Linked DNA regions of Homo sapiens. The protein of the gene in region 7 interacts with the protein of the main gene of each other region in a biochemical or structural test. Each region holds a gene or a part of one and is shown on either strand. Other genes may lie near its edges. The genes, in order: PALS2, MPP7, DLG5, PARD3B, TJP3, GRID2IP and OR10G3.

Evidence for each region.
Region 1: the proteins of OR10G3 (region 7) and PALS2 interact in a test that uses a peptide from one of them, tested with the Homo sapiens proteins (one large-scale study listed by IntAct).
Region 2: the proteins of OR10G3 (region 7) and MPP7 interact in a test that uses a peptide from one of them, tested with the Homo sapiens proteins (one large-scale study listed by IntAct).
Region 3: the proteins of OR10G3 (region 7) and DLG5 interact in a test that uses a peptide from one of them, tested with the Homo sapiens proteins (one large-scale study listed by IntAct).
Region 4: the proteins of OR10G3 (region 7) and PARD3B interact in a test that uses a peptide from one of them, tested with the Homo sapiens proteins (one large-scale study listed by IntAct).
Region 5: the proteins of OR10G3 (region 7) and TJP3 interact in a test that uses a peptide from one of them, tested with the Homo sapiens proteins (one large-scale study listed by IntAct).
Region 6: the proteins of OR10G3 (region 7) and GRID2IP interact in a test that uses a peptide from one of them, tested with the Homo sapiens proteins (one large-scale study listed by IntAct).

What each region holds. Positions count from the first base shown.
Region 1 is NC_000007.14:24,649,952-24,654,443, reverse strand, and holds part of PALS2 (protein PALS2), read right to left. Parts: intron 3,960-4,492; coding exon 3,732-3,959; intron 1-3,731.
Region 2 is NC_000010.11:28,050,022-28,053,299, reverse strand, and holds the end of MPP7 (MAGUK p55 subfamily member 7), read left to right. Parts: 3' UTR 1-2,307; downstream 2,308-3,278. UniProt on the Homo sapiens protein: Acts as an important adapter that promotes epithelial cell polarity and tight junction formation via its interaction with DLG1. Involved in the assembly of protein complexes at sites of cell-cell contact.
Region 3 is NC_000010.11:77,818,469-77,822,960, forward strand, and holds part of DLG5 (disks large homolog 5), read right to left. Parts: intron 3,634-4,492; coding exon 2,614-3,633; intron 1,551-2,613; coding exon 1,427-1,550; intron 1,220-1,426; coding exon of another isoform or gene 1,137-1,219; exon of another isoform or gene 998-1,136; coding exon 853-997; intron 1-852. UniProt on the Homo sapiens protein: Acts as a regulator of the Hippo signaling pathway.
Region 4 is NC_000002.12:205,300,454-205,304,945, reverse strand, and holds part of PARD3B (partitioning defective 3 homolog B), read right to left. Parts: intron 4,417-4,492; coding exon 4,210-4,416; intron 3,483-4,209; coding exon 3,245-3,482; intron 1-3,244. UniProt on the Homo sapiens protein: Putative adapter protein involved in asymmetrical cell division and cell polarization processes. May play a role in the formation of epithelial tight junctions.
Region 5 is NC_000019.10:3,710,985-3,715,476, reverse strand, and holds part of TJP3 (tight junction protein ZO-3), read right to left. Parts: intron 1-4,492. UniProt on the Homo sapiens protein: TJP1, TJP2, and TJP3 are closely related scaffolding proteins that link tight junction (TJ) transmembrane proteins such as claudins, junctional adhesion molecules, and occludin to the actin cytoskeleton.
Region 6 is NC_000007.14:6,541,237-6,545,728, forward strand, and holds part of GRID2IP (delphilin), read right to left. Parts: intron 1-4,492.
Region 7 is NC_000014.9:21,576,692-21,581,664, forward strand, and holds the start of OR10G3 (olfactory receptor 10G3), read right to left. Parts: upstream 3,386-4,973; 5' UTR 3,095-3,385; intron 1-3,094. UniProt on the Homo sapiens protein: Odorant receptor.

The DNA.
Region 1 (4,492 bases), on a different chromosome or scaffold from region 7:
TCATCTTATTTTCAGGTACCTTGGTAAACTCTATTATTTCTAATAAGTTGTAGTTTTGAGGGGTTTCTATGCAAAAACATGATCATATTTGTAAATAAGTTTTATTGCCTCCTTTCCAAACATTTTGCTTGTATAATTTATTTTTGTCATACTGTACTTATGGATCCTTCAAGAAAATATTAAATATAAGTGGTGCTAGTGAGCATCCTTCTCTAGTTTCTTTTTTTTTTTTTAACTAGGCAAAGGCTTTATCTTTGTTTTAAACTATTTTCTGGCTAATTAATTGCCAATAAATAACTGTATATAATCAATAATTAAAAAGCAGTGTCCAAGGGTCTTGGAATTTATAGACTTACATTTTATCATATATAAAACAAAAATTTTAAAAGCAGTTAAAATTCTTGAAATTGTATTATTTTTTAGAAGCTGAATCAATTCAGTTTGCCTCACTGTTGGAAGCTTCATCAAAATTCTGAACAAGATCACCACTTCCCCAATAGTAAGTGGTACTTTTCCATCCAGCTTCTGCCAGTTTCCTTAAGCTTGTTGACACCAAGCTGGTTTAAGACACTGGGTGGCATTTCTGTTAGCTGCTTTGTCTCAGCATGTCTGGTAATGGTCAAAGTGTTCGCTGCTAGAGATGTCTGAACACTGGGATTGTTAATGAAGATCACCATTCCTTGGTTTGCAGACATACCTCTTTAGTATCAGAGATATTGCCTATTTCTACTTTCTTTCAGGAAAACTGAAGATTTTTTTTATCATCTGTTTTAACAGATAATGTTTGCTGTATCATCTGAGGGCAGTTCCTTTTTACCAGTGCACAATTGTGCTTGAAATCTGGCAAGTTTTTCATGGTTTGTGAGGGCTTTTTCATTTTATAATGAAAACGAAAGTGGAATTTCGTGAGTGGAAATTAAACTTCGTGGGGTATTGGGGTTGGCACTAGAGGTCTCAGGCAGACCAGCTGCAAGGCCAGTTTCTGACTTTAAAGGGAAAGCTTCTAACATTAGTTAATTCAGAATAATGTTTGTTCTATTTTTTTTTTTTGTAATAAAATTAAGGCTTTTCCCTTCTGTTCCTAATTTACTAATCATTTTTTAAAAATCATTGAATTTTATCAAATTCTCCATTGAGGTTATTCTCTTTTCATCTGGTAATGTGCTTAGTTACATACATATGGATTTTCTAATATGAAACTCTCCTAGCATACCTGGGATAATAAATCTAACTTGGATATGTTGTATCATCTTTGTTATATACACAATCAAATCTGATTTGCTAATATTTTGTTGAGAATTTTTAATGTATATCCTTGAATGAAACAGTCCTGTAATATATTTTCTTATATTGTTTCTAGTTGTCCAGGTCATGTTGGTTCCAAAGAATAAGAGAGAATTCCTATCAGTTGGCCTTAATAAACAAATGGAATTACGAATAGCCCCCGGAAATCTAAGCTATAAGAAAGTTGAAGAACTTCAGAATTGGCTACTTCTAACTCACTCTGGCCCTCAAAATTTAAAACATAGATACTTATGTCCCATAGCAGATTCTGGACTTTTACCAAGCACCTGAAACGATTCTGATAAAGATCATCTACTGACTATGCTTTTGAAAAACATTACCGTGGTAGGGAAGAGTTCTTGGCTTTCATTTGCTCTTGCAGCAATCCAGAGCTGAGACTAGCTCCACAGCACTACATGGTGGAGATTTTAGTGAAAGAGTTGAAGACGCAAAATGCCCTTGCTTCCCTATAGCATCTCAGTAGGATGCCCATGGTTTGCAGATGCCCTGGTTTATGCCTATTATTCCAGCATATGAGTAATGTTCCCCTTTTCATTTAAAAAAAAAAAAGTCTCAATTTGGATGTTCTTTTGGAAGCCTTCATGTTATAGTTTCTTTACTTCTTTATGGGAGGACACGCCTCAGGCTACCTCGGACTTATAAGACTCCTCCTCTCCTACTTGAATTCATTTCCCCAGCTCTAAATGCTAAGTGAAAAGCAGAGTTTGAGAGGGTATGGAATGTGGAAAACTTATGTTTAAACAAGGCTAAATGTCCTTGCATTTCATGGTATTCAGTTAGTTCACCAGATGCAAAATCTATGTAGGAATTTGGGCCAAAGCCCTAGTTATTAATATTATAAAATTTTATTTTGCCTGTAAAAGTCTCTTATAGCCATGGTGAGCTAGAAGAATTCTGGAGTTTAGACCACAGAAGGAAAATAAGATCTTCCTACTACAACTAACACATAATAATAAATAAAATACGTAAATCCTAGATTTTACTCTTCCAGCGTACGCAGGTCCAAGATAAGGCCTCAGGCTGTCACAAATTGAAAGTTGCCAACTGAGGAATAAAGGTAGCCTGAGAGGTACTAGTGATATGAAATGTCTAAGTACTAATATCATTTATTTTTCACAATTCTTTTCCTTGAGGACCACAAAACTACCTTCATTTCAACCAAAGTTAATTACAAGCCTATCTATTTTCATAAGTTCAATTTACATGCTAATATTAATGACTAAATAATCTATCCTTACCTTTGAAAGAACAGTTTAAAATAGACATTCAATGAAATGTTATTTCAAATAACTGTATGGAAATGTAAGAACTAGACTTTTAAACTCTCATTTTAACAATATGAAATAAGATACACTGGCAGTATCTTATGTAAGAAAACTTATAATTTCATTCATACATCAAACAATAAATTTCTGGAATAAACCTAAGCATTAGAGGCATCTACTTCTACATTACTTAGGCTTGAAAACCCTCTCTTTGGTTCCAACACTCCTATCATAATTTTCAATTCTTCCTCCGCAATTTCTTTTTCTTTCTTTACGGTTCCATTTCACCACTACTGCGTCATCACCACAGCAAGTGCAGCCACTTCTTGAGCACTCATTATGTGCCAGGTGTTGCTGTGAGAGCATTACATGAATTAACTCGTTTAATCCTCATAACAATCTTTTGAGAAAACAAATTTTATCCCTAACTATATAGATGAGAAAAATGAAGCACAGAGAAGGTAAGCTGATAACTGGCAGCACTGGTATTTGAACCTAAGTGGTCATCTTAACCATTCATTAGAGCTGTTGTTCACAAATCACCTCACACCTTCAAAAATCTGCCACCTGGTTACATAATCTCATCTCTCTTCTTTTTGAATTCACTTAACATACCGAGTCTAGACAATCTCTATAACTAAAACATTTTCCCGTTCAATTACCTAGTTTACCTAAAATTAGTTTTAAAATACAGATCAAATGTGTGCAAACCAGGGGTCCAAGATTTTCTTTATACCCATCCTCTTTTCTGGCCTCATCAGTCATTTCACCCATGACACAAACACTAAGCTGGAGGTGATCTGGACTGCATTTTTATCCTCTCCCAGGGCCTAATACAATGCCTGAACATAACAGCTGTCAGAAATGTTTACTAGATTAGTAATTCAAAGACTTTATGGTTCTTCTGATACCTAGCTGTAGGTTACTATTATGCCAGGGTTCCTGGTGTTAATGAAGAAATCTACTATTTCCTTTACAATAGTAAAATAGCATTGTTTAAAAATTCAAAAATTCACCCATGACAAAATAAGCCATTTCAGAACACTCAAATCAATTTTTTCTCTTTTCTTTAGCAAAATAGTAGCAACTGATAGTTATTTCCAACACTGTGATTAAAAACATGAAAGTATTTTTAATACTACCAAAAATTTTATTACTAACCTGTTGAGGAGTAATGGTATCTCTATAACTTGGTAAGATTTTTAGGGTGACACTTCCACTAATATTTTTCAGTAATTCTTGTAATTCCTTTGGATTATTTCCAACCTCATGGCCATTGACTTCTTTAATTATATCTCCCACATGAAGTAGACCTTGTCGATCTATCATTCCCCCATGGAGGATTCGGGCAATTACCAGATCATTATTTTCAACCCTAAATGTCACACCCTATGAAAAATAAGAAACAGATTTCTCATTAATTATTAGGGAGAAATGCTTAAATATTCATGAGCATATGTAAGAAAATAATTCTAAAACTAGGTAAAATGAATCATTCTTACTTTTCCCATGTTCTCTCCTGTCTCAATATTTCACTCCCATTAAACTGTGTACTAGTATAGTTTATTACACTAGTGGATAGGATGTATCTTACAGGCTAAATGGAAACTCGAGAGAGCAGGAAAAGGTATTTGTGCATTCTGATGGACTTATTCCTGGCTTTTCCTTTTTTGCACTCACTGTTCTTATAGTCAGGATCCAGAAGTAATAATTTTACCAAGGAATAGTAAACTTCACTACTTAGAGAGTCCTAGTATGGCTTCAATTTTTAATAACAACTTCTTTTTATATTTTGATACTGTCAGTATTTCTTCAAAGGGTAGTTCATGTCTTCAAAGGGTAGGAAGAAACATAATAGTCATCTTCTGAAATTTTTTGCTACCCCTTGCCATATTTCTACTTCTAGCTCAGTTTAACTTTTC
Region 2 (3,278 bases), on a different chromosome or scaffold from region 7:
AGGATATTTTTATTTGTAATTCCTCAGAAGACAATTTATGAAGTCACCCAAAATGTTATTTTAGCTGGTTTTGGATTTTTCCAATAAATTAGAAGAAGGATTTCTATTCTAAAACATGTAAAACCTGTTTTACATATTACTGATACAATTAAAGATTATTTTTCATCTATGTGCAATAGATCACCCCTCTTTAAATTGCTCTAAGATTTATTTTAGAAAACTTTTCATGTGATGTTATTTCTTTGTCATCAAAATGCTTGTTAACACTGTCCAGACACCATCCTAACCTTGCCATTGTTAAAGAAGTTTAGGAAAGACTCTTATATTGTAAATATTTAGATGGGTTCTCTCACTTTTCTTTGATACTACTGATTTTCAGCAAGTGAATTATATAATTCAAAATGCTAGAAATGTCTATCCGTTCTATAAGAGAGCATATCCTGCCGTTCTTGCATGCAGTGAAGCCCTGCCCGTCGAAAATCATTGCATCTGTGACTTTCAAAGTGGAAAAAAAAATGTTATTTTTTTGTTGATTTGTAAAGAGAGTTTAAATGTCATGTGAAAAAAAATAGAATGTAGTAAAATTCTATATATTTATGAAATATTTTAAAGGCATATTTTTTTAAATATCAAACGGGGCTATTCATAAAATAAACTGATTGTATGTCAAGATGTCCTAATTTAAAAGAGTAGTTTTATAAATCATGGTCAACATTCCATGTAAATATTTGAGCTTTACAAAGATAGATCCAAGTGTGCGATCTGTGCACTGCACATTTGATAGCATTATTCACTGGTTTTCCTTCATACTTGTCAAGTTCATATTAGAAGCAGAGACAAAAACCACTCCAATGGCCTTGACACATAGTCACACCAAAATAGATAATCAGACTAAGTATTATATAACAACGTGATCCAGACAGTGAGTTCTAAGTGTATTAATTAAATAGCAAAAAATTTTGTTTTTAAAAAATGAAAGAGGGAGGGTTGCCAACCTGAAGTCTTAAGTAGATTGTTTGGGTAGCATATTTCCTTCTTTGAACATTGTCTGAAATTTTCTATAAATCAAGACTTCTTGTACAAAGAATGATGGGACATATGTAATAATTCAGGCAATCACCTGAGTAATTTAGGCAGTCCAAATTCTTTACCCTGAAATACCCACATTTTAAAAAAATTGCAGATAATTGCTTCAGTTATTTACTTTGGGGACAGAGATATAGTGTAAAGTGGGAGAAACTGAGTCCTTTTTTGGTGGTGGTAATAATAAGATGTTATAAAAATATAACATTTTAAAAAAGAAAGGTCCAGACCTTAAGCGCAGAGCTAGAACAATATTTTTTAAATAATGGGGGGAAAAGGGGGCACTTTGGTAATTTTAGAAATCAGGTAGTATACTTTTTTTTTTTTTTTTGAGACAGGGTCTTGCCATGTTGCTCAGGCTGGTCTTGAACTCCTGGGCTCAAGCAATCCTCCTGCCTTGGCCTCCCAAAGTGCTGGGATTACAGGCATGATCCACCGTGCCCAGCCGGTAGACGTGGTCTTAAAAACAGTGTTTACATGGCCATCTTGATGCTTAGAAAGATAATTGATTAAAATTTAATAAGGCAGGGCCAACTCCGAGAGTTCATTGACAACGGCAGCAAAAAGGCCCTGAATTCTGTACTTTCTTCCCCCAGCCTCCTTCTCCAGCAAGGAGAATAGCACTCCTCCCTCCAGAAGCCAGCTCCCTAAGTTGGAGCCACTATGTAAGAGAAGAGGAACGTTCACTTTTTAAAATTCATATATTTAAAAATCAAGACCAAAAAGTAAATTCTGTACTCCTATTATTGACTGTAGTCAATCAAACATAAAAAGGTGAAAGTAAAATTTAATTTTTTACCCTTATTTTACTGACCAATATGGAAGTTCTTGGTATCTTTAAGGCTGACCTTCCTGGTATTGTGTAATGATTGAATGTATCTAAACTGTAATAATTTGAAACTGACAAACATAACCTTCTCAGACTTACAAAACTATGTTCTTTCTAAAGATACAGATTTTTATTATTTTATTTTGACTAGGAAGGATTTATAAATAAATGTAATGAAAAATCTTTGATCTTAATAAAGTACCTTCAAACAGTGTGTGTACTTACTTGAAAATTGTTTTTGCACTTGGATATTCTATTTTATTATACTACTATTGTGATCTATTCCATTATACTATTTCCCATGGTAGAACAAATTATATTTTCTACTGTGATATGAAGTGATGTAATTGAACTTGCCATGTCTAAAATTAAATTTCATATTTTTTTCAATCAAACACTGCTTTCATCGAGGCTGTTGGAGAGATGGAATTCACTAGTGTTGTTCTTACCCATACATTCCAGCAATTTAAAAATGTGGAGAACCTTAGTGGGAAGGAAGAATTAGGACCATCAATGATGGGAACACACCTCCCCCACTCCCCACCTCCTCTCCCTCCCTCCCACTAGGAATCAGTGTCACACATATCCTCTTCCTGAGCTCCAGTTAGGCGAAACTCAACTTTTTCAACTGTGCATATAGGAACAGATTGTCATCTGCTATGCAAACTAGCTAGCATTGGCCTTGCTTCAGTCCTCGAGCCAGTTAGCCCCAGCTGTGCATCCATAGAAAGGTTGCTCTGAAGAGCATTTAAAAGCATTTAAGAGCATGGGATCTGGAGTCAGAATTCTTCAGTTCACATTCTGATTTTGCCTGTTTCCAGCTCTGCAGCCTTGGGAAAAACACTGAACCTCTCTGTTTTTCATTTTCTCATCAGAAAAAAATAGGGACAAGAACAGTGATTACCTCATGGGATTGGTGTGGGCATGAAATGAAAGAATCCATGTATACTTAGAACAAAACCTGGGACAGAAGTGTTCAGTAATTGTGAGCTCCTGTTGTATAATGGTCATTATCATCACATCACACAATTTAAAAATAGCTGTGTAAGTATTCTCAATCACCCTACATAAACAGTTTTCCTATTAGTAAGCCCACTGGAAGTTTACAATAAATCATTTTTTAGAAGCTTTATTTTTTTTTTTGTTTATTTTTTTGAGATGGAGTCTCACTCTGTTGCCCAGGTTGGAGTGCAGTGGCGCGATCTTGGCTCACTGCAAGCTCCGCCTCCCGGGCTCACGCCATTCTCCTGCCTCAGCCTCCCAAGTAGCTGGGACTACAGGCGCCCGCCACCACGCCCGGCTAATTTTTTGTATTTTTAGTAGAGATGGGGTTTCACCTTGCTAGCCAGGATGGTCTCGATTTCTT
Region 3 (4,492 bases), on a different chromosome or scaffold from region 7:
GCTGCAGGTCCCACAGGGTTTGTGCCCTGTGACCTCAAACCTCTTCTTGACTCGCTGCCCCTTTGACAAGCTCCCACGACTGTGCCTGGGTGCCCTGGCCTTGGCACCGATGGCCCTTCTCCCTGGAGGCTCCAGCCCAGGTCTTGTGCAGCTGGCCTCTTTCATCCTTCTGGTCACAGCAGCATCCCCTCTGCCACAGGGCCCTTCCTGACCACCCACTCTAACTTGCCACCCTCTTCCAAGTTACAGCCCAGCCTGTCACCCTGTTTGACTGCCTTCATAGCCTCTTGGCACCATCTGATATCACTTCGTTCATTTTTTTTTTTTGTCTGCCTCCCACATTTGAAAAACCACACGACATGAGCTAGAAGCTAATTTGTTTAGTTCAGCAATGTATCCTCTTATAATTAGGATAGACCAAGGCATGTAGTAGGTGCTCAAAAAATATCTGTCAAATGAATGAATAAGAGTGGCTTGGAGCCAGCCCACCCTCTTATGAAGTACCAGTTTCCTCATCTTCAAGACAGAAACAGTAATAGGACTTAGCCCATGAGGTTGCTGTTGATTCGGTGAAATGATATTCATAAAGGTCTGAGCACAGTGGCTGGGACATAAGCACTCAAACATCAGCTGCTATCACTATCGTGTCCTTCCAGTACCTTTTGAAACCTTGTGCTGATGAATTCAGAAAGCAGCCCTAAGGCTCCCTTTCCCTGTGCTGCTCTAGCCAGTCCCCTCCCAGGCAGGCAAGGAAGCTTCTCCACCAATGAGCCTCTTTATGCACTCATGGTTCCATGTCCAGGCAGGCTTGGGCAGCTGGAGTACAGAGAAGCGTAGGGTGCCTTCACATACCTGGGATGCAAACCCTGGGGGCCAGCATCTCGGGCCGCAGGTGGAGAGCTGCAGGGGCCGACCCTGTGACTGCGCACAGTGTAGATGGGGTTCCGCAGGATGGAGCTCACAGTGGTGCTGGGGGTCAAACTCCGGGGAACAGTGCCTAGAAATGGGCTTGGTGAGAAAAGACGCCCCAAAGGACCCAGCCAGCCCAGGACTTACACAAGCCTTTCCCCTGTATCCCAGGACGCAGCCGCAGTCTTTTGGGAAAAGGACTTGGGAGATGAGTTTTAACCACCAATTCACAATGTGGCTGTGGCTCCTGGCCTGTCTCCATTTGTAAAAAGGGGGGAAGTCTCTTTCATGCTTCCTATTTCCCAGGTTGCTATGGGGAGAAAGCATGTTGACAAGCTAAGACATGTCATGGCTATAAGACAAACCATCCCAGACAGGACAGCATTTCCCAGTTCTCTGGACCTCAGGGCTGAAAACACATGGCAGCTCTCTGAAATGCTGCCTCCCCTCTCCCTGGAGACTAGGCATCCCGAGTTTACACCGACCCTCAGCCCCAGCCCCTGGCTGGCTGACTCACCCACAGACGGCCTGCTAGGGTATAGCGGGGGGTTGCTGTGCCGGCTGGAATGCCCAGGCGAGTAAGGTGCCCACTCCTGGAGCTCCGGGGAGAGTTCTCCACTGGCCGGGACACACTTCTGTTCCTGCAGATGCAAGGGCAAGAGTGTCTGCTAGAAAGAGTGGAGTGTGGCCAGGCGCAGTGGCTCACACCTATAATCCCAGCACTCTGGGAGGCCGAGGCGGGCAGATCACCTAAGGTCAGGAGTTCAAGACCACCCTGGCCAACATGGCGAAATCCCGTCTCTACCAAAAATACAAAAATTAGCTGGGCATGGTAGTGGGTGCCTGTAATCCCAGCTACTTGGGAGGCTGAGGCAGGAGAATCGCTTGAACTCGGGAGGCAGAAGTTGCAGTGAGCCAAGACTGCACCACTGTACTCCAGCCTGGGTGACAGAGTGAGACTCCATCTTAGGGGAAAAAAAAAAAAAAAACCAAACAGTGGAACGCTTGAGCAGCTCTGCAAGCCAGTTTCTGCCCCCCAGGAACCAGCTCCTCCCACTGGGGCACAGGAAGGGACATGAATGGGAACGCTGCCCATTCATGTTGCCTTACACATCTTCAAGGAAGCAGCTTTACTTCAGAAGAAAACCACAGAGAATGAATCTTTCACAGAGATCACGTAAAAGGTGAGAATGCACAAGTGCATCAGGCACGTACAACTCTGCCCGATGTGGAGGGCTGTGCGAAGCTCTTTGTCCCCAGTGAGCAGTGTGGACTGGTGCCTGAGATGCTTTCCACAGTCCCCAGCAATCTCACCCTTCTGGAAACTATGACAGCACACGCAATCAGGCCGTCCCGCTGCCCACTCAGCCTCACACGTGCCACCTCATCTCCCTAGCCCTTCAAGGCAAGTCTATGCCCTAGGTTTTATTGTGTAAGTTCAAAAGCTTCTTATTAAAAAAGCAAACCAAATGCTATGCCCAATAAAGTGTTCCCCTCTTGTGTCACACTCCCACTACCATGCACTTCCACGCCACTTACCTACCTCCTAGCTGGGCCACTTCCCACTTGAGTCCAACAGCAAAGGCAAAGGCACCAGGCTAAACAGGGGCCTGGGACACTGGTGCAGGGCCACTTAGCAGCCCTCCTTCGGCCAACTGCCCCTCTCTAGGCCTCCCCTCCCCACACCCTGGGGCTCAGCTATACCTCCAGGAACTGAGCAGGAATCACTACTGGAGCAAGCTTCGGCCGAAAACTGGGAGCAGATTTTGGCCGGCGACGCTTCTGCCCCAGCTCATCCACCTTCTGGGAGGTGAGGTCCTCATCACAGGATTTCTTGGCCGGCAGGTGGGAGGAGTCCCCATCTCCTTCAGGGTAGTAGCTGGAAGCAATGCGGACCCTGGCCTTGCGAGGGGGTGATGCGTGCATGGGCTCCCCGGGGTCCACGTCAGGGGGCAGGGCGCTCGGGGGACTAGTGGATGGGGAGCTGCCCACCAGAGTGGCTTCTGACTCGGAGCTAGTCTCCAGCCTGTGCTGGAACTTAATGGAGTCGCTCCTTCTGGGAGGTTTTGGGGGTGTCAGAGGCCCCGCCCTCTTGGAGGGCTGGGGAGAGTGAGCAGGCCCAGGACCTGGAAGCAGGTAGTCTATTTTGGGGGGTGTCTGGGGGCGTTTGAAAGTGTTAGGGTCAAAGATGGACTTTCTTTGCTTTGGCTTTTTATAAACAGAGAGCTTCTCAGGCACTGCCGTGGAGCTGAGCATGGCCTTGGGCCAGGTCCCGCCGCTGTTGGAGCCTTCAGAGTCTGCCTTGTCCAGGGAGGCCTCCCCAACCCCACAGGGGCCCACCTCGGTCTCAAAGGGCAGCAGTGGCCGCCGGCCACGCACGTCCACCAGCCCAAAGCCACGGTCCCCAGAGGCATCTGAGCGGAAGGAGCTCAGGCTACGCTCAGAGGCACTGGGACAGGCCTGGGGGCAGACCTGCAAGGGTCCCCCAGGGAATGGCTTATGCAGAAAGGAGCTGCTGCCTCCTGGGGGGCCTGGCTCCTTCCTGTCTTCCAGCCTGTCCGTGTAGAAGATGTCTGTCTGCGTGGAGTTATTGTGCTGTATCAAGTTCCGTTTGTTATGAGCCTGGACCTCCGGGCCATGGGCTCGAAAACTCAGCATCTTATCAGAGTCTTTGATATTTTCAAAAATGTTCTGGCCACTCCACGAGGAGCTCTGAGGGAATACCTAGGCAGGGATTGCAGAGGAGTGAGAGAGAGAGTGAGATGGCAGGACTTGGAGCTGCCACTGAAAACCATCCCCAGAGGTAAAGCAATGGTCAGGAATGGGCCACCTGCCCCTTAAAAAAGAGACAGATAGACAGAGATGCACACACACATGAACACATATGCTTCTCCCTAATGGATAAGTTTTCTCATGGCTCTGGTCACTCTGAACTCAAAGAAGAGTCAAAGTTTTCTTAACTTTGAACACTTTCTGAAATTATCTGGGCCGGGCACAGTGGCTCATGCCTGTAATCCCAGCGCTTTGGTAGGCTGAGGCAGGCGGGTCACGAGGTCAGGAGTTCGAGACCAGCCTGACCGATATGGTGAAACCCCATCTATACAAAAATTACAAAAATAAGCCAGGCACGGTGGCATGCACCTGTAGTCCCAGCTACTTGGGAGGCTGAGGCAGGAGAATCGCTTGAACCCGGAGGTGGAGGTTGCAGTGAACTAAGATCACGCCACTGCACTCCAGTCTGGGCGACACAATGAGACTCTGTCTCAAAAAGAAGGAAATTACCTGCATAATGTCTTGAATATTTTTTTTAAATATTAAACATAAAAGTAAAAATTCATTGTTAAAAATATATCTCTTGTGGTACACCCAGACAACGGAATATAAATTAGCACTAAAAAGAACTGAAACAACGTGCAGGAACCTTAAGTGTATATTAGCAAATGAAGAAGCCATTCTATACACTCTGTGATTCCAACTCTATGGCATTCTGGAAAACACAAAAGCATGGAGGCAGTAAAAGGATCAGTTGTTGCCAGGGGCTTGCATAAATATGGGGAGCATAGGGAATTTTTAGAGCAGTGAA
Region 4 (4,492 bases), on a different chromosome or scaffold from region 7:
TGAGATAGGGTCTTACTCTGTTGCCCAGGCTGGAGTCCAGTGAAGGGATCATGGCTCACTGTATCCTCTACCTCCCAGGCTAAGTCAATCCTCCCACTTCAGCCTCCTGAGTAGCTGGGACTATAGGCACATGCCACCATGCCCAGCTAATTTGTGTTTTTTTCCTTTTTTTATGGAAATGGGTTTTTGCCATGTTGTTCAGGCTTGTCTTATAACTCCTGGGCTCAAGTGATTTGCCCATCTCAGCCTCTCAAAGTGCTGGGATTACATGCCTGAGCCACTATGCCTAGCTGAATTTTTTTTTTTTTTTGAGATGGAGTTTTGCTCTTGTTGCCCAGGCGGGAGTACAATGGTGCAATCTTGGCTCACCACAACCTCTGCCTCCCAGGTTCAAGCGATTCTCCTGTCTCAGCCTCCCGAGTAGCTGGGATTATAGGCATGCACCACCACGCCCGGCTAATTTTGTATTTTTAGTAGAGAAGGGGTTTCTCCATGTTAGTCAAGCTGGTCTCGAACTCCTGACCTCAGGTGATCCGCCCGTCTTGGCCTCCCAAAGTGCTGGGATTACAGGCTTGGGCCACTATGCCTGGCCAAAATTTTGTTTTTTAATATTCAGATAGCTATTATGACATCAGGCCTGCTGGGGTAACCTCACCCCAGGTGATAGCAGGACCGCAGCAAGTCTTGTCATAACACATCCAGGGGCAACATCGCTCCCAAGATTTTGAGCATGAGGAACCTTGCTTAGCATTTCATGAGCACTGGAAATGTAACGGGAAGGCTCACTGCTAAGAGGATTATTTGTATTCCCTAAATGTCACTTATATATGGAATGATGGAACTTTCTTTTCTATGTAGAAATTTCAGCTGATGATCACAAAATGAGAACAATTGGTAATAAATACACGCAGCATTCTTAAATGAGGTATCTCCTAAGGGTTTCATAAGAGGTGGCCAAACTGGCCCCTAAACCATCATCTCCCATCATTCACCTTCAGCCCACAGAAGTATAGTGATCAATTGATTTGAGAAGAAATTATAGGAGTAAAGACAGTAATAGAAAGGGGTACTTCTGCCTGTAACACCCAACAAAATAAGTGAGGGGGCTACAAGTAAACCCCTTAGGGAATTTGGAGGTAATTGTATAATAGGAGATTGTCACCCCACTTCCTACCTGTTTATTTTGTGACTTGCAAAAATTGACTGCCTCCTCCCTTCCCCATGCATGACAGCATTCTTGGGAGAGTCTGATGTGTGCTTCTGGAGTGAGGAGGCCCAGAGCTGGTGTGGGATGTGCTGGAGAAGTCTGAAGATGCAAGGCTGGTTGGAACATCTCTATGGTGGGGTGAGGAGGAGCGGTACAGTGGGAACAAGCTGTACTTGCATCATTTGGAGGGTGGGAGATCAGGAACTCTAATAAGCCAGGTAGATGCTGTGGCTGTAAGTTAAGCTAGAGCTGTCTCAAACTGGCACTGTCCAAGAAGTCTACCAGCCGGGGTAAGGAGACTCAGGGGTATATGTCTGAGGTCAGAGGCTTAGGGAAATAGGTCAGTGGGAAAATCACCTACATTAGTGACTGGTATAGTAAGGAGCACTCTAAAAAATCCACAAAAGTAGCCACAAAGATTCCTTGATGGCCAGATTATACCAGATAATGCCAGTTAAGTAAAATCCTATCCTATTGAATCTTGTCTTTGTCTCCTGGTTCCAAAGACTGAGAAATAGGAGAAGGTGGAATCCTGCCTCCCACCATACCATAGGATGCTCCTTGTGGTTCAGGTCCAACAGGCAGAAAGGAAGAAAGCTTTCATTTATATTGGATTGCATATTTTAGCCCCCGACAAACAAGTTGCTTTTTTTTTTACCCAAAAGTGACCAGAAAGCTATCAGCCAGAAAGCTGAGATGTCAGGGTGTGGAAGAGGCAGCCTCAACAGTTTATACTTGAAGGGGAGAGAAGAAACAAAGCTGTTTTCTGACTGTGCCATGTTGAGCCCCGTCTAGTCAATGAATGTATAGCATATGAAATCATATCTCACAACTGTGCTGGGTCAGTAGAGCAAGTATGCTGGCCTCATTTTAAAAGTAAGGAAAGTAAGGCTCAGGGAAGCTAAGCAATGTGTGTGAAGCCCCATTGCTCATGTGTGGGGAGTCATGGATCCAGACTTGGGCATCAGAGCCCAGACCCAGTGACATCTCCCCTGTACCACAGTGCCTCTGGAGGTGACAAGTGATGTGCCCAGAGGCCCGGCCACTGCACACCTAGAGTCACAGAGGGATGAGGTTCATCTACCCTGACTCCCCTGCTTCAAAAGAGGTATTCCAGAGGTAACACATAGGGCTTCCCCACTTCCCACTTTCCCTGTGGTGTCAGAGGAAGTATTTATTTTCATAACACTTTGGTACAAAGGACTGCAGGCATTGTCCATGCCTCTACTAAGTATTGGCCTTTCTTTTATGGTGTAATCATAGCTCACTGCAGCCTTGAACTACTGGGATCAAGCCATGCTCTGGCCTCAGCCTCCTGAGTACTTGGGATTACAGGTATGCACCACTGTGCCTGGCTAATTTTTTTTTTCTTAGAAATAGGGTCTCCTGCCTGAAACCCCAGCACTTTGGGAGGCCAAGGCAGACAAGGCAGATCACTTGAGGTCAGGAGTTCAAGACTCCTGGCCCACATGGCGAAACTCCACTCTACTAAAAATACAAAAATGAGCTGGGCGTTGTGGTGCATGCCTATAGTCTCAGCTACTAGGGAGGCTAAGGCAGAAGAATCGCTTGAACCCAGGAGGCGGAGGTTGCAGTGAGCCGAGATCACGCCACTGCACTCCAGCCTGGGCGACAAAGCGCGACTGTCTCAAAAAAAAAAAAAAAAAAAAAAAGAAAAGAAAAAAGAAAAAAAGAATAGGGTCTCCCTACCTTGCCCAGGCTGGTCTTGAACTCTTGGGCTCAAGCAATCCTCCCAGCCTCCCAAAGTACTGAGATTACAGGCATGAGCCACCGTGCCTGGCATAGTGTTGACCTTTCTTTGACAACAAACTTAAGACAGTGTCCTGTCATCACTGTAACTTTCCCCAAAAAGCTCCTCTGCCTCTGCAGAAAGAGAACGAGCACAGAATTGAGAGCCGTATGCATTTGGCTGAAGACGAGGAAAAGCGTGCGCTTTTTTCTGAGTACAGACAAAGGAGTGATTTTACCAGGAGAGACAAAATGAGAACCAACTTTGCCTTCAAAGCAGGCCCATACCTCAGCATGGCGCCGAAGCCCTTCTTCTTTATTTTCCTTTCTGGATCTTCATTCTCCTCTTTGCGCTTTTTCTCCTTGACTTTCAATTTGCCCTTTTCCTTTTTCTTCTCCTTCTCTTTCGTTTTTTTGACTTTCCTGGCTTTATTTTCCATGTCCTCTAGCTCCGAATTCCCCTGAGGGGCAGACTCACAATTCAGAGCTCCTTGGCCAGAGTGAGAGCTCTTATCAGACAGACCGTCTGTACAGAGAAAAAATAATCAATACCCATGGTCAGGGGCACACTCAGTTAGTATACAGAGAAACGCTAACATGTAAAATGCAAAAGAATGAATAACAGCACTCTGTAGTTCTACCCTTCTATGTGGTTACGTGCGCCCTTTGAAGATCTGACTGCCTAAATCTGGTTACTTCGAGCAAGACTTGATGCTGGGAGTGGGGACAACCGGTTGCTTAGCTGGTAGTATGAAAGGCTTGATATGTGTTCAAGCACTAATCTCTCTGAAAGCTGCCTTGTTAACCTTGATCAGCTCAGAAAGCCTGCATGCTGGGAAACAAACAGGGTGAGAAGAGAGTTTTGAGTACAAAATATCCCAACTGCTTCTACCCAATTAATGCAGTCGGAGTCCTTGGATTGATGCTGCCTCTAATGACTCGAATGAGAATGTCAAGAAATGCATACTTAGTGCTCCTACCCTAAGGGTAAATGACAGTTGGTCCTTGTAGAAAAGTGAAGGAGAACATTTATTTAGCCTTGCACTGTAAAATAAATTGCATATTGTGTTCTCCAATTCCATGTTCATTAAGCCAAAGGGCAAAACATATCAGGAAAATGAATTACTTTTAATATCAAAAATATAATTGTGATCCTTAAATCATTTTTTTCTGTAGTTGAGCACACATTCTTGCCCATGATTTGCAGATAATAATGAGATGAAGAAGCCATTTAAGGAAGCATATCATCCTACCAGCTTCTATTTCTTCAGGTCCATCGTAGGATTTGTCAATGGCTGCTCTAAAGCTCTCATTGCAGCCTCGGCCTCGAACCATGTGCGGCCGGGGCCTGTGAAAGGGAAGGTCATTCTTCCTGACCTCGGCCACTGCAGTCTGCAGACTCTCCAAGGAGCTGGACTTTTTCAAACCCAGAGTTGGACCAAAATCTTTGCTTGGAGATTCTGGAAAAGAAAGGGCAAAAGGTCACCCCTCTTCTAATGGGGCAGTGTGGTGTAATGCTATTGTTCTAAGAATATT
Region 5 (4,492 bases), on a different chromosome or scaffold from region 7:
AGGCTTTGGAGATGGGCATAGCCTTAAGCCCCTTATTCCCACCACCCCTGACCTTCGGATCACCTTAATGAATTAAAAACCTGCTTTTGGCCGGGCGCGGTGGCTCACACCTGTAATCCCAGCACTTTGGGAGGCCGAGGCGGGCGGATCACGAGGTCAGGAGATCGAGACCATCCTGGATAACACGGTGAAACCCCATCTCTACTAAAAATACAAAAATATAGCTGGGTGTGGTGGCGGGCGCCTGTAGTCCCAGCTACTCGGGAGGCTGAGGCAGGAGAATGGCGTGAACCCGGGAGGCGGAGGTTGCAGTGAGCCGAGATTGCGCCACTGCGCTCCAGCCTGGGCGACAGAGCGAGACTCCATCTCAAAAAAAAAAAAAACCAACCAACCAAACAAACAAACAAAAAACCTGGTTTTCTACTGTTGCCTCACGAAGTAAAAATAATAATAGCAAAAAGAAAAGGAAAAAAAGAGAAAATCTGCTTTTCAGCAATCTACTTCATTTGTGCCTTAATTCTTCTGTGCATTCAGTCACTCAGTCAACAAAACTGTTGCAAGCCAAGTATATGACGTGTGATTGGGAACCAGCGTTCAGGGCCAGTGTGATCTGAGCAGGGTGAGGGACAGGAGGACCCAGGGAAGGTGGAGTTCTGGAGGCCTCCCTGGGATGAGCCAGCTCAACCCCTTCTGAGTGCTTGTGGGAAAACTGAGGCCCAGAGATAGCAGGGGCTGGGCTGAGGTCCCCCAGTGGATCAGGGCCAGGATGGTCTCGAACTCTGACCTCGTGATCCGCCCGCCTTGGCCTCCCAAAGTGCTGGGATTACAGGTGTGTGCCACTGCGCCTGGCCTAATTGTACTTTTTAGTTACATATGCGATTATTCAATTATTGTCTGTCTCCCCTAAAGACTGTGGGCTTCCACTGTGTCTGTCAATCAGTTCTTCTGCAGCCCCATCACTGTGTATGCAGTACGTGCTCAATAAATACTAAAAGAACGGGCTGGGCGCGGTGGCTCACATCTGTAATCCCAGCACTTTGGGAGGCCAACGCGGGTGGATCACGAGGTCGGGAGTTTGAGACCAGCCTGGCCAAGATGGTGAAACCCTGTCTCTACTAAAAATACTAAAATTAGCCAAGCGTAGTGGCACGTGCCTGTAATCCCAGCTACTCAGGGGGCTGAGGCAGGATCATGAGGTCAGGAGTTTGAGACCAACCAGGCCAAGATGATGAAACCCTGTCTCTACTAAAAATACAAAAATTAGCCGGGTGTGGCGGCGGGCTGCTGTAATCCCTGCTACTCAGGAGGCTGAGGCAGGAGAATCTCTTGAACCGGGAGGCAGAGGTTGCAGTGAGCCAAGATTGCGCCACTGCACTCCAGCCAGCCTGGGTGACAGAGAGAGACTCTGTCTCAAAACAACAACAAAGAAATTAAATAATAGTAATAATAATAGGCCGGGCGTGGTGGTTCACCCCTGTAATCCCAGCACTTTGGGAGGCCGAGACAGGTGGATCACGAGGTCAAGAGATGGAGACCATCCTGGCCAACACGGTGAAACTCCGTCTCTACTAAAAATACAAAAAAAAAAAAAAAATTAGCTGGGCATGTTGGCGGGCGCCTGTAGTCCCAGCTACTCGGGAGGCTGAGGCAGGAGAATCACTTCAACCTGGGAGGCGGAGGTTGCAGTGAGCCGAGATCGTGCCACTGCACTCCAGAGCCTGGGCGACAGAGCGAGACTCTGTCTCAAAAAAAGAAATAAATAAATAATAATAATAATTTTAAAGTTACAGAAAAGTAAATACACAGAGAATTCCTTTATACACCCAACTGATTTCCACTAACATTAACATTATTACACGGGTACATATGTCAAAACCAAGAAGTCAACATCAGTACAACCTTGTTCACTGAACTCCACACTTTATTCACGTCTCTCCGCAGGCCCTTTGCCGCCCCAGGGCCCCATCCAGGATCCCACCTGGTAGTTGGCTGTCACGTCTCCTTAGACACCGCTGGGCTGTGACCGATTCTGTCTTTCCTGTTCTGTGACCTGTTAGTCTGTGCTGGGCAGGTCTTTTGCAGAATAACTCTCAATGTGGGGACATTGGGGACCAGCTGTTTCCCTCATGACTAGACTGGCGTCATGGGTTTTGGGGGACCCTGGGAGGTTTTAAGGAAGCCGTGTGGAGAGGACGGGGCAGGAGCAGAGACAGAGAGCAGAGATGGAGGGCAGCCAGGTGGGAGGAGACGCCCCGGTCTGTGGGTTGCCAAGATCCAAACGACCTTTGAGGAAGGGCAGATTCTAGGTGTGGCCGGCTCAGCCCTAAGGCACTGGAGGGCTGAAGAACGTCTCAGGGTTTGGCGTCCTGGGGAGGCTGGAGGACCTCATGGGGGGCACTTTGAAGTAGGACTCATGGGGGGCACTTTGAAGTAGGAGGAGTGTGGAACCTGCTAGAAGCTTGGAGTATGGAATGCAGCTCAGGGTGTTCAACAGGGGACTTTCTTTTCTTTTCTTTTTTTTTTTTTTGAGACAGAGTCTTGCTCTGTCACCTAGGCTGGAGTGCAGTGGTGCAATCATAGCTCACTGCAGCCTCCACTTTCCTGGGCTCAAGCGATCCTCCCACCCCAGCCTCCTGTGTAGCTGGGGCCACAGGTGCACGCCACCCTGCCCAGCAGATTTTTGTATATTTTGTAGAGACGGTATCTCGCTATGTTGCCCGGACCTGTCTTGAACTGCTGGGCTCATGCGATCCTCCCACCTCGGCCTCCCAAAATGTTGGGATTCCAGGCGGGAGCCACCAAGCCATGCCAAAGATGCCATTTCCCCCAAAAGGGAGGACGGCTGAGCTCTAGAAGGAAGTTCCACAGCAGAGAGAGAAAAGCAGAGCCCATGTGAATTCCAGCCCCTGCCTCAGCTTCCTCATCTGTAAAACGGGGATCCCGGTTTTGACCCTGAGCAGTATTTCAGGGAAGGCTCAAAGGTTTAAGCATCTGCCACTAAGGATCCCCTGGGCTGCCTCTCCATGCTTCTAACTCCACTCGGGCCCCCAGTGGGAAAGCCAAAGGTGAATTACAGTGTCCCAGGGCTAGAGGGGGCCCCCTGCCCCATGGAAACCATCTACGCTAAGGTGCTGTCATTCTGGGCACGGAATGACATTTTTGAGATGGAGTCTTGCTCTGTCTCTGGGGCTGGAGTGCAGTGGTGCGATCCCGGCTCACTGCAACCTCTGCCTCCCAGGTTCAAGCAATTCTCCTGCCTCAGCCTCCCAAGTAGCTGGAATTATAGGCACACGCCAACACACCTGGCTAATTTTTGTATTTTTAGTAGAGACAGAGTTTCACCACGTTTGCCAGGCTGGTCTCAAACTCCTGGGCTCAAGTGACCCACCTGCCTTGGCCTCCCAAAATGCTGGGATTACAGGCGTGAGCCACCGTGTCTGGTCCAGAGGAGAACTGAAAGAACACACACACACAGGCAATCAAGAATGCTGAGGCCGGGTCGGTGGCTCTCGCTTGAAATCCCAGCACTTTGAGTGGCTGAGGCTGGCAGATCACTTGAGCCCAGAAGCTCGAGACCAGGCCGGCCAACACAGCAAAACCCCATTTCTATTTTCAATTTTTAAAAAAAAGAAAGAAAGGAAACAAATTAATTCCCCTCTGTATAGGCTATAAAGTCTTACCGGTTCCCATATTAATTAATGAATTAAGCAGACACATAAAGCACCTTTTTTTTTTTTTTTGTACTTTTAGTAGAGACAGGGTTTCACCATGTTAGCCAGGCTGGTCTTGAACTCCTGACCTCGTGATCCACCCGTCTCGGCCTCCCAAAGTGCTGGGATTACAGGCGTGAGCCACCGCATCCGGCCTCATTTTGTATTTGTATGAGAGTAATGATTTTACTATTTTGGGAAAAAATATCCTTTAATATCATAAAGCCAAATGTCTTCAGGCCAGCATTTAAAGCTCTCCCTTCATTTTGGCCGGACGCGGTGGCTCACGCCTGTAATCCCAGCACTTTGGGAGGCCGAGGCGAGCGAATCACCTGAGATCAGGAGTTCGAGACCAGCCTGACCAATACGGTGAAACCCTGTCTCTACTAAAAATACAAAAATTAGCTGGGCGTGGTGGTGGGCGCCTGTAATCCCAGCTACTTGGGAGGCTGAGACAGGAGAATCGCTTTGAACCCAGGAGGTGGAGGTTGCAGCGAGCGGAGATCGTTCCACTGCACTCCAGCCTGGGCAACAGAGCGAGACTCCATCTCAAAAAAAAATAAAATAAGGCCGGGCATGGTGGCTCACGCCTGTAATCCCAGCACTTTGGGAGGCTGAGGTGGGCGGATCACAAGGTCAGGAGAGACCATCTTGGCTACCACGGTGAAACCCCGTCTGTACTAAAAATACAAAAAATTAGCCGGGTGTGGTGGCGGGCGCCTGTAGTCCCAGCTACTCGGGAGGCTGAGGCAGGAGTATGGCGTGAACCCGGGAGGCGGAGC
Region 6 (4,492 bases), on a different chromosome or scaffold from region 7:
CACGGGGTGAAAGTGAAGGGTCAGGATTCAAACCCAAAGAGAGCTGTTCTAATAAATATCGTAAAGATCAAAGGAATTAATATAAAAGCTTAAAACCACACCACACATTCAGTAATTGCTAGTTACTATTATTATAATACTACACTCCCTTCCATACTGTGCGCTGAGAGATCCCACACAGAACATTCTGACTCCACAAAAAAAGTCCTGGCACGTCAGCTTGGCCCTGAATTTTGACTCCCTCAGTTCTCTCTCCAAACTTTTGTCTTTGTCCACAAACCAGCTGATACTAATCAAGGCACATCTGCACACAGGAGTGTGTGGCCATTGGAAATGAGCGTGCAAATGGACACGTTGGAAACGTGTGCAAATGATCACGTTGGAAAGGAGCATGCAAATAGACATGGTGGAAACGAGCGTGCAAATGCACACGTTGGAAACGAGTGTGCAAATGGGCACATTGGAAATGAGCATGCAAATGGTCATGTTGGAAATGAGCATGCAAATGGTCACGTTTCTGGAAGGCAGGTTGTTAAGTGTGTCCAAAGCCCATCCTTCTACCCAATGATCTCACATGTAGGAATTTATCTTACACACATCCTGACAAGACACATGCACGATGATGTATGAGTGAGGTGGTTCACCTGTGTATTATTTCTAACACTAAGACGTTGGCAGCAATATAAATATCTGACAGTGGGGGCTAAATAATTGCAGTACATCCATGTGGGAGATATTTGTAGTTTCTTGGCTATCTAGGCCAAAAACAAAGAGGAAAATCTCAGCCAGGCGCGGTGGCTCACACCTGTAATCCCAGCACTTTGGGAGGCCAAGGGGGGCGGATCATCTGAGGTCAGGTGTTTGAGACCAGCCTGGCCAACATGGTGAAACCCCGTCTCTACTAAAAATACAAAAATTAGCCAGACGTGGTGGTGGGTGCCTTTATTCATCCCAGCTACTCGGGAGGCTGAGGCAGGAGAATCGCTTGAACCCAGGAGTCGGAGGTTGCAGTGAGTCGAGATCTTGCCATTGTACTCCAGCCTAGGCAACAAGAGCAAAAACTCCATCTCAAAAAAAAAAAAAAAAAAAAGAAAAAAGAAAATCCCAAAGTAGGTGGGAGGCAAGATCCTGGCAGGGCTGGGGGCAATGGTTCACACCTGTAATCCCAGTGCTTAGGGAGATCGAGGCAGGAGGATTGTTTGAGACCAGGAATTCAAGACCATCCTGGGCAACATAGCATGACCCCATTTCTACAAACAAATTTTTTTTAAATTAGCCAGATGTGGTGGTGCATGCCTGTAGTCTCAGCTACTTGTGAGGCTGAAGTGAGAGGATCACTTGAGCTCAGGAAGTTGAGGCTGCAGTGAGCCAAGATTGTGCCACTGCACTATACAGTCTGGGCAACAGATCAAGACCCCATTTCAATAAATAAATAAGAAAATAAAACCATGAAATAGGGAGTGATGGCTAAGGAGTGCAGAATTTCTTGTTAGAGTGATGAAATTGTTTGAAAATGGATGGTAGTGATGGGTGTTACAATCCTGTGAATATATTAAAAACCATCGAATTGCCCACATGTCATACAGTTTAGCCACTGAAAGCACATACTCCATGAGACCCTTCCCTTGTTGGCTGAGGGTCTGGTTGTCTCTGGGCACTGACAGCTGGAGCTGACCCTGAAGCAAGGCTGGGCGGCTGAGTGAGTCCATGAGTCGTTCACGTCTCCCTCTCTCGAGGACTTGTGGGTGCAACTTCAGCCTGAACTGGGGCTGTCAGGCCCCGCCTCTCTCACCCTCATCCACCTCCAAACTTCTCAACAGACTCCGCATCCTTCCCTTCCATCCTCTGCTCTCAGAGGTTGAAGAGGCCCACTTCCGGCCGGGTGCGGTGGCTCACGGCTGTCATCCCAGCACTTTGGGAGGCGAAGGTGGGTGGATCATCTGAAGTTAGGAGTTCGAGACCAGCCTGGCCAACATGGTGAAACCCCATCTCTACTACAAATACAAAAATTAGCTGAGCATCTGATGGCAAACGCCTGTAATCCCAGTTACTCGGGAGGCTGAGGCAGGAGAATTGCTTGAGCCTGGGAGGCGGAGGTTGCAGTGAGCCAAGATCGTGCCACTGCACTCCAGCCTGGTGACAGAGCGAGGCTCTGTCTCAAAAAAAAAAAAAGCCCCCTTTGTAGTCAAGGCCAAATCACCAGGCCACAGACACCTCACCATTCCCAGTCTCCACCCCTTTCTTCCTGCCACCTACTTGTCATTCAGCTTTCAGCTCAAAGATCATCTCATCAGGCAGCCTTTCCTGGCCACCCTGTCAAAGTGGGTTGCGTCACTCTCACCTCACCCTATTTATGCCTCCACTTTATTCATCATCATCTTTTTTTTTCTGGAGTCAGGGTCTTGCTCTGTTGCCCAGGCTGGAGTGCAGTGGTGCAATCATAGCTCCCTGTGGCCTTGAACTCCTGTGTTCAAGCGATCCTCCCACCTCTGCCTTCCGAGTAGCCAGGATCACAGGTGCACGCCACTGTGCTTGGCTAATTTAATTTAATTTTATTATTATTATTATTATTTGAGAGAAAGTCTCACTCTGTCGCTCACTCTGTCGCTCTGTGCAGTGGTGGGATCTTGGCTCACTGCAACCTCCACCTCCTGAGTTCAAGCAGTTCTCCTGACTCAGCCTCCCAAGTAGCTGGGATTATAGGCAAATGCCACCACGCCCGGCTCATTTTGGTAATTTTTGTAGAGATGGGGTTTCACCATGTTGGCCAGGCTGGTCTCAAACTCCTGACCTCAGGTGATCCTCCCACCTCGGCCTCCCAAAGTGTTGGAATTACACGTCTGAGCCATCGTGCCTGGCCTGTCATGATCTTTAATAGCTTGTGTATTGATTAATCCACTTGCTTACTGTCTCTTTCCCTGCAGTAATGTTAGGTGTGTGAAGTCAGGCTCCTTGCCTGTGTTGTTCATGGCTGTTTCCCCTGTCCTGCACATCATAGGCCCATGATCAATGACTGGTAAATGCATGGTTTTCTTTTTCTTTTTTCTTTCTGTTTTTTTTGAGATGGAGTGTCACTCTTATTGCCCAGGCTGGAGTGCAATGGCATGATCTCGGCTCATTGCAACCTCTGCCTCCCGGGTTCAAGCGACGCTCCTGCCTCACCCTCCTGAGTAGCTGGGATTACAGGCACCCGCCACCACAACCAGCTAATGTTTTGTGTTTTTAGTAGAGACAGGGTTTCTCCATGTTGGCCAGGCAGTCTCGAGCTCCTGACCTCAGGTGATCCACCCGCCTCAGCCTCCCAATGTGCTGGGTTTACAGGTGTGAGCCACTGTGCCCGGCCTGCATGGTTTTCAGTATATCTACTTCTCCATTCCCTGCAGCTTATATAAATGTTCAAGTCTCTCTCAGGCTATAAATAAATAAATAACAAGCTGGGCACAGCAGCTCATGCCTATAATCCCAGAGCTTTGGGAGGACAAGGCGGGAGGATCACTTGAGGCCAGGAGTTGGAGACCAGCCTGGGCAACATAACCAGACCCTGTCTCTAAAAAATGAAAGACAGCCGGGCGCGGTGGCTCATGCCTGTAATCCCAGCACTTTGGGAGGCCGAGGCAGGCGGATCACAAGGTCAGGAGATCGAGACCATCCCAACTGACACGGTGAAACCCCGTCTCTACTAAAAATAGAAAAAAAATTAGCCAGGTGGGCGTGATGGCGGGCGCCTGTAGTCCCAGCTACTCGGGAGGCTGAGGCAGGAGAATGGTGTGAACCCGGGAGGCGGAGCTTGCAGTAAGCCGAGATCGCGCCACTGCACTCCAGCCTGGGTGACAGAGACAGACTCCATCTCAAAAGAAAAAAAAGAAAGAAAAGAAAAAGTAAAAAGTTAGCCAGATATGGTGGTGCACGCTTGTATTCCCAGCTACCAGATACTTGGGAGGCCGAGGTAGGAGGATCTCTTGTGCCCGGGAAATCAAGGCTGCAGTAAGCCATGATCACACCACTGAGCTCCAGCCTGGGTGACAGATCAAGACCCTGTCTCCATAAATAAATAAATAAAAGACAATCCTCCTTTGATCCTGAAAGCTGCTCATTCTCCTCCCTTCTGTAGTCTGGAGCCGTCTACACGTGCTGTTTCTGTACCACTGCCCTTTGCCACTGCAGTTCACTATTGCACTTGAGGCTCTCCACGACCCAGCTCTGGCGAAGAACCCCAGACAGTGACTCTCAGACCTCGATCTTCAGCCGAGAGCTCGCTCTTGAACTCTGGAACTGTATATCCACCCGCTTTCTAGATGATTCCAAAAGGGGAGGAGAAGTAGCGGGAAGCTTCGAGGGTTTCCAGTCAGAGGCCACGTTCTGTACACGTCTGAATCCTAGCACAGATGCACCATGAGTCTGTGTAACCGTCTGTCTCCCCCACCCAGGTGTGATGATCCGGGGTCTCATGCTTGTCCAGCCCCAAGCACAGCGCCTGGCACATATTAGGCAC
Region 7 (4,973 bases):
TGCTTTGGAGAATATTCTAAGATTTACTCCCTAAAAAGTGTTATTTCTTTTGCAAAATTTTCCATTGATAGGGAATGACAGTCCACCCATAGCATGATGATTCTTGTTTTATTCAACCAGAGAATAGAATTTTCTAACTTTGTCCTTAGATTTCAGAACCATCTTAAAGGGAGGAATGAGAGGAAAGAGTGCAGTTTTATTTGTAATACCGAGTATCTTTATTGGGTGTGATTTCATCCCAGTTACCTCTTTTTGTTTTCTTCTTTTTGTTTCTCTAACTTTTTGCTCCTCAGTAAGTTATAAATATTAATAGAAAAACTTCCCTTTACCTCTGATCTGTTAAGACCTTTCTCCCTGTGTCACTGCCATTATCATAAACCTCCAAGCATAAAGCTTAGTATTTGCCAGGTAACCACCCTTCTGCATACTCTCTGGCTCATTAATATCCCACATGTGGTTCTGAGACACTTTATTTAAATGCTTTCAAAAATAAAAGAGAGAGAGAGAGAGAGATACGGAGGGACAGAAAGAGACATGGAGGGAGAGAAAGAGACATGGCACAAGGAGAAGGAAACATGGCACCGATGAAACCTCCGGGGACCAGAGTGATAAAAAGTCATAGAATAATGGTGGCATTTTGCACCTGTGTAGTGTTTTTTAATCCTTAGAGGTTAAATGGCAGAGGAGTCTCACAGCTGTATAATGCTGGAGTAAAGGCTCCAACCAGATTGTGTTGTTCCTAGTCCAGCACTCTTTCCACATTTTACTGAAAATTCCTTCCCACAAGGAACCAAATCAAAATAATGTAGTAAATCATGTGAACTGAATCACAATTTTAAGAGTTTTATGGTTCATTCTGTCAAGGATTCTAAACTGGTGTTACTACCCTATTTCAAAATTGAGACATAGTGGAGTTAAGAGCAAGTTCTAAAATCAAACTAGAGTGAAGTTTAGTTACAATGAATTCATGAAGTTGCCCGACTTCTTTCATTGACAATCTATCACACTGAGTGTTTCTTAAAAAAGCCCGAGGGAGGCCGGGCGCGGTGGCTCACGCCTGTAATCCCAGCATTTTGGGAGGCCGAGGCGGGCAGATCACCTGAGGTCGGGTGATCAGCCTGACCAACGTGAAGAAACCCCGTCTCTACTAAAAATACAAAATTAGTGTGGTGTGGTGGCACATGCCTGTAATCCCAGCTACTCAGGAGGCTGAGGCAGGAGAATCGCTGGAACCTGGGAGGCTGAGATTACAGTGAACTGAGAGCACACCATTGCGTTCCAGTCTGGGCAACAAGAGCAAAACTCCAACTCAAAAAAAAAGAAAAAAGCCTGAAGGCTTAGTAGTGTTTTTATTTCACAGATACTTAGTCTTTGAATATATTGATTAAATGTGTTTTTGAATTCTCATCTGATATCAAATATTAAAGACCATCTAGAGGCCGGTCGCGGTGGCTCATGCCCGTAATCCTAACACTTTGGGAGGCCAAGGCTGGTGGATCACCTGATGTCAGGAGTTTGAGACCAGTGTGGCCAACATGGTGAAACCTCGTCTCTACTAAAAATACAAAAATTAGCTGGGCATAGTGGTATGAGCCTGTAATCCCAGCTACACAGGAGGCTGAGGCAGGAGAGTAGCTTGAACCCGGAAGGCAGAGGTTGCAGTGACTTGAGATCGTGCGATTGCACTCCAGCCTGGGCAACAAGAATGAAACTCCATCTCAAAATAAATAAATAAATAATAAATAAACAAAATAAAATAAAGACCATCTAGTACATGAATGTTTGAAAAATATATGAGAAATATTAGGGGACCACAAACTAAATAAAAGTGTATAATTTTGAGCAACCAAGGAGATTAGACATCTTTTCTAATGAGGCGAAGGGCACAGGCTTAACCTCATTTCAGCAAATGAATTTTACTTAATTCTGGTCCCAAACTGTATCCCTAACCCATCTTTCAAATGGCCATGAAGAAAACTTTAAAAATTTTATTATTTTCTGAAAATCGACTCAAAGCACACTTTTTTATTTATAAAAAGCATTTCAAATATTTGGAAAACTAATATAATTAATTTCTTTTTAAAATAAATTTCACAATAAGACATATAAAATGGAAAATAATTTAAAGATGAATAACAATGGAACAAATATATACATATATAATATGAGAAAAGTTTGAGTTATTAAATTGAGAGACATGAGACAATTTCTATTAAAATGTAAAACCCTTATTAGCAATGAGTTAGAATTGTCTGTTTAAAATATTTGCCAACAAAGAAATCAGGTTATAGCTTTACTCATGTCCATTTTTCAAATTTTGGGCAGAGAACTTGTCTTATAGGTGGAAGGGACCTGGTGAGGACAAAAAGAACAGAGCAAGGGTGGCACCACCACAGAACTCGAAGATGCTCTTCCTAGTCTGGTTGGTATTAAAACCAGTGAATGGACTTTTAATGGAGAATAGCTTTGGAGAAAAATTTAGCCAATTAAAGGCCTGGGGGAAATAGTGTTATCCAATATTAGCCACTATTTTTTAATTTTTTAATTTTTTTAATTTTAATTTTTATTTTTGAGATGGAGTCTCTCTCTGTTGCCCAGGCTGGAATGCAGTTGTGCCATCTTGGCTCACTGCAACCTCCATCTCTCAGGTTCAAGTGATTCTCCTGCCTCAGCCTCCCAAGTAGCTGGGATTACAGGCGTGTACCACCACCCCCAGCTAATTTTTGTATTTTTAGTAGAGATGGGGTTTTACCATGTTGGTTAGGCTGGTCTTGAACTCCTGACCTCAGGTGATCCGCCCGTCTTGGCATCCCAAAGTGCTGGGATTACAGGTGTGAGCCAACATGCTTGGCCTATTAGCCACTATTTATAAAAAGGCTAAATGGTAGTTACATAGTCATATGAGCAGAACAGCAAAGAAAATTTTTGTGACAGCAGAAAAAGAACTATACTGAGTAACTAAACAAGTAAGAATATTGAGAGATGAAGTGACTCAGAGTAGAGAAACCCCTTACACAATGTTTGGACTTAACATTTATCTCTGAAAAATGGGATTAGAACAGTGGCAGGTGCTATTTTGAGAAGAGGAACTCACCTGAAGGTGTCAGCATCCATCAAAAACTCTTCTTGCAGACGGAGAGAAAGGATACAAATCTATTCCTAAGGAATCTTGAATATCTCATAGGTCAGCAGCAATTATTGTGAAGAGCTCGTGGCAGAAGACCCAACTAATTACTTTTGGCTGGATCAAAGTAAAGAGTCAAACTATGGAAACTTAATTTATTATTTGCCTGCTTATTTGTAGAGATATCTGCTTCCAGCTTCCTTATGAACTGGGGGAGGAGCTGTGGCTCTTACTGAAGATAACTGTTAAGGTTGGTCTCTCCTGTGTTCTACTACTTCTTCTATTTCCCTCAGAGTCAGTTTTTATGTGTGAGACCTTTAGCTTGGGGAATATTGTAATAGCACTCCTGTGATAGGCAAGACCAATATCCATAGTTTGTTTCCTAGGAGACTCTCTGGGTTTCTAGCTTTTTCCAATTTTGTAACAGCAGGTGCGACAAAGTCTGTGGGGCTTAACAGGTCTCGTTGAAATCTTCAGATCTGTGGTTTTCTTTCTGTTCCAAAGCAAATTTGGAAAAAAAGAGAAGAAAAAGCTAACATGGTTGTTACTTGGCAAGAGATGTGTTCTTATTGGTGCATTCACATTTTAAGAAATTCACACTTTGAATTACTAAGGTGCTAACATAGACCTTCACAGACTAGAAGAAACAGAATTTCAGGGTTGGAGGGACATTAGAGGTCATCTGATCCAACTATCATCTGTAATGTTTTAAGTCAAGCTCCCTGAACAGTGATTTTTCTTTTTTAATTTTACAATTTTATTTATTTATTTATTTTTTGAGACAGGGTCTTGCTCTGTCGCTCAGGCTGGAGTGCAGCGACGTGATCACGGCTCACTGCAGCCTCATCCTCCTAGGCTCAAGCGATTCTTCCACCTCAGCCTCCCAAGTGGCTGGGACTACAGGCACATACCACCACACCTGACTAATTTTTAAATTTTTCGTAGAGACGAGGTCTCACTAGATTGCTCAGGCTGGTCTTGAACTCCTGGGCTCAAGTGATCCTCCTCCCTCTACCTCCCAAAATGCTGGGACTACAGGTGCAAGCCACTGCCCCCGGCCTGTTATTTTTCTTAGTATTTCTTGGTCTTGTTTCCTTGAATACTTTGAATTTGGTCTAACTTATTTTCTTCTAGACTTAAATTTGGTGTTGTCGCAACATTTTTCCCAACTGTCTTCAAATGTCCAGAGATGGTCTGTGTTGTAAAAGAACATCTTGAATATGGTTTAGTTTTATTATTTTTTCCACCAAACTTTTGTGGAGGTCTCTGTAGCTTCCAAGCCACAATTGTGTTAAAGTGTCTAAAGCAGAGGAAAGCACACTTTCTCTCTAAAGAGGCAGATAATAAATGTTTTTGGCCTTGAGGACCATACAGTCTCTGTTGCAGCTACTCAACTCTGCCATTGTATGGGAAAGCAGCCATAAAATACACATACAAATGGGCATGGGTTTTTTTTTTTTTTGAAACGGAGTCTCACTCTGTTGCCCAGGCTGGAGTGCAGTGGTGTGATCACGGCTCACTACAACCTTTGCCTCCGGAGTTCAAGTGATTCTCCTGCCTCAGCCTCACGAGTAGTTGGGATCACAGGCACCTACCACCATGCCCAGCTAATTTTTGTACTTTTAGTAGAAACAGGGTTTTACCATGTTGGCCAGGCTGGACTAGAACTCCTGACCCCAGGCAATCTGCCCGCCTCAGCCTCCCAAAGTGCTGGGATTACAGGAGTGAGCCACCTAGCCCAACCCCGGCATGGTTTTATTTATTTACTTAATTATATACTTTACTTATAGATACTATAATTTGAATGTCATAATTTTCATGTATCATGAAATATTATTTTCATTTTGCT